Linked DNA regions of Homo sapiens: region 1 is linked to region 2. A link means that fine-mapping ties the variant in region 2 to the expression of a gene that starts in the linked region. Tissue or cell type: whole blood. Region 2 holds a variant in brackets; the other region holds the start of a gene. Each region is shown on its reference strand, or each on the opposite one. Region 1 holds the start of TTC9 (tetratricopeptide repeat domain 9). Region 2 overlaps ZNF229 (zinc finger protein 229).

Evidence for each region.
Region 1: TTC9 starts here. The variant in region 2 is fine-mapped to the expression of TTC9 in whole blood (TOPMed, PIP 0.98).

What each region holds. Positions count from the first base shown.
Region 1 is chr14:70,640,117-70,643,034 of GRCh38, forward strand. TTC9 (tetratricopeptide repeat domain 9) reads left to right here and starts at 1,800. Exons shown (of 3, transcript NM_015351.2): 1 at 1,800-2,419. The coding sequence starts at 2,014. It overlaps TTC9-DT (TTC9 divergent transcript), which reads right to left and starts at 1,182. Exons shown (of 3, transcript NR_110071.1): 1 at 892-1,182. RefSeq lists enhancers at 695-874, 975-1,234 and silencers at 1,705-1,854, 2,075-2,264, 2,285-2,354.
Region 2 is chr19:44,426,010-44,428,927 of GRCh38, forward strand. It overlaps ZNF229 (zinc finger protein 229), which reads right to left. Exons shown (of 6, transcript NM_014518.4): 6 at 245-2,918. The coding sequence ends at 2,294. Among named protein-coding and RNA genes, the nearest start is that of ZNF229, 21 kb to the right of the region's middle. The variant A/G (reference allele first, on the strand shown) is at 1,130.

The sequences.
Region 1 (2,918 bases), not on the chromosome of region 2:
GTTCCATACCACTTATGTTGGCTAAAAGAGCACTTTTTACAAATATAGATGCCTAGGAAACAACTGGTAGGAATTACATCAAAATATTAACAAAGAATACAACTGGGTGTAGACTGGGGGGTTCTTTATACTTTACTGTATTTTCCAAAGTCTCTACAGCAGTGTTTCTCACACTTTAATAGGTAAACAAATCACCCAGTATGCTCGTTAAAATGCAGCTTCTGGGTTAGTAGGTGTGGGATTTTCAGATTCTGCATTTCTGATAGGTTCTCCTGTGATGCTGATGATATTGGCCCAAGGTCTACATTTTGAGTAGGAAGGTTTTAAAGCAGCATATCTGAACCAATATACTGGTTAACTGAGACCCACCCTCAGAGTTTCTGATTTCTTAAGTCTGGAGTAGGATCCTAGGATTTGCATTTCTAACTGTTTCCCAGGTGATGCTGACACTGCAGGTCTGGGGCCAGCACTCTGACAACCGGTGCTCTAGAATCTTTCTTTTTCTTAACATTAAGGAAGGGAGGGCACTAAAAAATATGTCAGGCTTCTCCATTGACTCCAAAATCAAATCCAAACTCTTCATCCAAAAGCCCCCATAATCCAACCCCGTCATTTCCCACTACTTCTCATTAGGCTATAAAATCAAACCACTATGCCCTAAACACACCTGAGATTTCAAACATCAGGACTTCCGCTGGATTTCCTCACTCCGGCTATGCCACTTCCTTCTACTTCTTCATGCCAAATCCTACCCAGCCTTCAAGGTCCTCAAATGCTATTTCCTCCATAAAGCCTCCTGATCTACCACTACTCAAAAAGCTACCTCTCCCTCCCCCCCTCAGGGCTGCACAGCACTTTTCGTTCCTCCCCAATGACAGGCACCATCTGTACCTGGTCCAGCGACTCTACCGGTGGGTGGTGTATCTTCGCCTGTAGACTGGGAGTTTCTTGAGGTCAGGGGAGTGACTTGCCTATCTTTGCCTCTTAGCCTTAGCAGATCCCCAGTAGACAGCTGACACTCAGAACCGACCAAAAGAAGGAAGGAATGGGACCTCCTGAGGAAGGGCACAGAACTGTCCTGTAAATGGAAACTAGACCGGACGCACGCCAAGCCGATGACCCACAGTAACAGGTGTTCTCCATCTCTGATGTCTGTGATTCATCCTGCACAGCTGCGCGCACACAGCACACGCATACACAGGCTCCCAGAATACGGCGCCCCACACGCTGTACCGCCCGTCGCGTTCTGGACGCCCCGGCGACCACACACACCGAGACACACCTCAGCGACAACCTGGATCCACAAAAAGGAGGCCCTGCCCCCTTAAAAAATACTAACACCTTACTGCAAAGAACTAGCAGCTACGGCTTGCGCCTGCGCCCCTTGTTCCCTGCCGCACCTTTTCTTGTAGTTAAGAAATCTATTTCTGCACGCATTTCGTCGCCGCCGCCCCCCATCCCTACACGCACGCACACACACACACACACACGCACACACACACACTCCCCTTCCCCTACACCTACCCCCCTCCCCCCACCTCCTTTCAGACTAGGCGCGCCTCGCAGAGCGGGATTGAATGGGAAAGAGCGGGGCCGTCTTTGTCATTAATCCTCCCCTCCTTCGGGCAAGCCAAGCTTCTTCCGGGTCAGCGACCATCCCCGCCACCCCACTCGGGGCCACGGTCCCCCCGCAGCGCTAGTCCCGGGCCCGCGAGCACCGGCCCCCGCCACCCGCAGGTTGCGGAGGGAGGAGGGCGGGAGCGGGCGGCGCGGAGCCGGGAGGCGGGGGAGGGGCCGGCGTCCGAGGCGGCGGCGGCGGCGGCTGGAGCAGCCTCTGGCAGCAGCGGGGAGAATGGGAGTGCGGGGCGCCAGACCGCCGCGGGGTGTCACGGCCGCCACGAAGCCTGCGAGGCGCGGGGCCGGCGCCCGCGGCTTTTAAACCCGGGAAGGCGCGGCGGCGGCGGCGGCGGCGGGCAGATCGCGGCGCGCACCAGGCGCCGGGGCGGCGGCCGAATGGAGAGAAAGGGCTCGGCGGCCGGGGCCAAGGGGAACCCGAGCCCGCCCGCGGCCGGAGAGGGGCAGCGGCCACCGCCGCCGCTGTGCGTCCCGGGCGGCGGCGGAGGAGCCCCAGCGAGGGGCCAGGTCGGGGCGGCGGCCGAGCCGGCCGAGCTCATCCGACGAGCGCACGAGTTCAAAAGCCAAGGGGCGCAGTGCTACAAGGACAAGAAATTCCGTGAAGCCATAGGCAAATACCACCGGGCGTTGCTGGAGCTGAAGGGGCTGCTGCCGCCCCCCGGGGAACGGGAGCGGGACTCGCGCCCGGCCTCCCCGGCTGGGGCCCTGAAGCCCGGCCGCCTCTCGGAGGAGCAGAGCAAGACGGTGGAAGCCATCGAGATCGACTGTTACAACAGCCTGGCAGGTGAGCCGCGCCGCGCCCCCCGCGCCGCGGTCCCCGTTCTTCGGCCCGGTCCCTCCGCGGACCACTGCGGCGCTCCCGCGGTGCAGATTCTCCTGCTGTGACTGTGTTGCTCTGGGGAGAACCCGGGAGGGAGGCGCTTTGGAAAAAGTGTGACTTTCAGGATTATGCCTTTCAAAGGCCATAATCATCTCTTGTCCCTTCGCTAGCATACATCGTAAATCTCACCTAGAAATGACTGGAAGGGGACCCAGCTGGCCTGGCTATGGCTGCTGCTGCTACTGCTCACCAGTGGACCTGGGTCCAAAATGCGGAAGCAGCGCCCGGGGTGGGCCCCCGCAGCCACCGCTAGCCCAGCTTTTTCCTGCGGGTGGGTCCCAAGGGAGGCCACGCACCTGTCTGCTCTCCTTAGGTAGCATGAGCACCAGGATTGGTCCTCGCCTTTTCCCCAACTAACCGCATCCCTGTAGGTAAGATCTTCCCCAAGTTTTTTGGCCCCAGT
Region 2 (2,918 bases):
AGCTTATCCTGGAGGAACACATGATGGTGTGCTGCCCTCTACAAAACCAGGCTTGTGGGCTCACTAGTTCAAGAAGGCAGGACTGAAAAATGGAAACACCGTGGCTCCTAATTATCTAGACTGCCTCATCTCCTACCAGCCAGCAAAAATGATGTAGCCTCTGAGAATATTTACATCACTCATTTGTATGCCTTATCTTTGGTACAGGGAGTTGGGTGAACAGGAGAAAAAGCCAAAAAAGTTATAGAGGTTACAACATGAATCTTTAATCATAAGGGATTGTTCCATCAGGCTAATTTATAAAAAATAGCTCTACTGTTATTATAAAACTGAAAGATACTTTGTTACAAAGTAAAATACATAAAAGTACAACATATGTATTATACATTCAGAATCCCACCACTAGAGATAAGTAGTTATATGTCCTCTCCCACATCTTTTTTTCTCTGTTGCTCTAAACATACACACAGAAAAACATACTAACAAAATGGGGTCATGCTATAATTGTTGTTCTAAAACTCTCCTGGTTCACTAAATACTTCATGAGCAACCTGCATTGTCATTATCTGTGTGCCTGAAGATTTCTAGTGGCTTTCCATTGCATACATATGCCTGAACTTATCTAAAAAATTTCCTACCAATGGAAACTGGAATATTAACATTTGCTATTTTAAAAATGTTTTAAATTTAAAAACTCCACCTTCTGCATGCGTTTTTGCCCAAGTGGGCAACTATCTCCCAAGTATCAATTACTACATATTTACTGCCACTTCAAAGGTTATAGAAATTGAATTGATACGTTAATGAATTCTTTTGAAAACAATGCACGGATTTTCTCTCTCACCAATAAGTACATAAGACTTATTACGTCCATTTTTGCACTGCTATAAAGAACTACCTGAGACTAGGTAATTTGCAAAGGAAAGAGGTTTAACTCACACACAGTTCCACATGGCTGGGGAGGCCTCCGAAAACTTAGTCATGGCAGAACGCAAAAGAGAAATAAGGACCTTCTTCACAAGGGGACAGGAGAGAGACAGCGAGGAAGGGCTACACCTTAAAACCATCAGCTCTCATGAGAACTCACTATCATGAGAACAGCAAGGGAGAAATCTGCCCTCGTGATCCA[A/G]TCATCTCCCACCAAGGCCCTCCTCTGACACGTGGGGATTAAAATTGAGATGAGATTTGGGTGGGGACAAGAGCCAAACCATATCAGACTGTTTCTACAACCCCCCCCCCCGCCCCCACTGATGGGGGATTTGATGATTCTATTTTAATACTGCTAACCTGCAGGGTGAAATAGCATTTGTGATTTTTAAGATACCTAATATTTGATATGTTAAACTATGAAATGAACTGGAGCAAAACCATTATATTCATGACAGCAATAAAACAAATTCCTAGAAATATGCTTAAGATGACTCAGAACCTATTTTTAACCATCTCTAAGAAATATTACTGAGGGACCATATGAAATACTATCAGTGGTAAAAAAAAAGTCATTTTTTTAAAGTGAAAAAAAATCAGCATTTCAAAGACGCCACATTCTTTCAAAATTAACCTATAAATTCAATGCAATGCCAATTAATAAATTTATTTAATTAATAATTCAATGCAATGCCAATCAGATTTTGCTTTTTGAACCTGGAAAGAAGACATATTTCTGTAGTGTACTACAACTCCTCTGAAAGCTGTAAAGCTTACCTGCAAGATAAAACAGTCATAAAAACATGATAAAAATGTGAGACACACACATCACCCAGATCTGCCAAGAGAACTTTGTTCCTGGTCTTCTCAGAGTGACTTGTTTCAATAAATGTTAATGTTATCTTTTTGTTTTTATAAAGCGATCTTTAAAAAGATATGTACCAAACTGGTTTTAGAAAGGTGGAAACTTGTTTCTACACTGTCCCATTGGTAGCTATCAACCCACACAAAGAATCTATGTCCATAATTAGCACCTTGGAAACATTCTCACCACTTGTACATTGTAAAAGCTCCCTCCCAGGCAGATTCTGATGGAAGTGAGGATTATTACTGAAACCACTGCTGCACTGTTTCTTTAAAGCCTACTCCGCTGCACAACAGACTCTTAAAGACTGAAGTTTGTAACTGAAGTGCTAACCTATTTATCACACATCCAGGTGTTCCCTTCCTATGCAGACTAGAAAATGTAAAATCATCAGTTTCTCCTATAGCCCTCCTACATGTCACTTTCCTATGGTTTTTCTCCTGTGTTGGCTCTCAGATGGATAGAAAGCTCTGAGTCCCAGATGGAATCCTCTATGTACATCTACTTATAAGGGTTCTCGCCTAAATGCACTCTTTGGTGGTTCCGCAGACCTGAGGTATAACTGAAGCCTTTCCCACACACACCACACGTATAGGGCTTCTCTCCAGTGTGGACTCTCTGATGAACATGAAGACAGGAGTTGCGGCCAAAGCCCTTCCCACACTCCTCACATTTATAGGGTTTCTCACCAGTGTGGACCCTCTGATGACCTTGAAGATGTGAGCTCTGACTATAGCCCTTCCCACACACGTGGCATCTGTATGGCTTCTCGCCAGTGTGCACTCTCTTATGACTAAGGAGACCTGAGCCATATCTGAAACCCTTCCCACATTCACAACAAGTGTAGGGTTTCTCTCCTGTGTGCAACCTCTGGTGGGTGCGAAGATTAGAGCCATAACTGAATCCCTTGCCACACTGATCACACGTATAGGGCTTTTTTCCCGTGTGGACTCGCTGATGTTTGTGAAGGCTTGATGTGCACCTAAAGCCCTTTCCGCACTCTTGGCATCTGTAAGGTTTCTCGCCTGTGTGGACTCTCTGGTGAATGAGAAGCCCTGAGCTGTAACTGAAGCCTTTGCCACACTCAGCACATTTATAGGGTTTCTCTCCAGTGTGGACCCTCTGA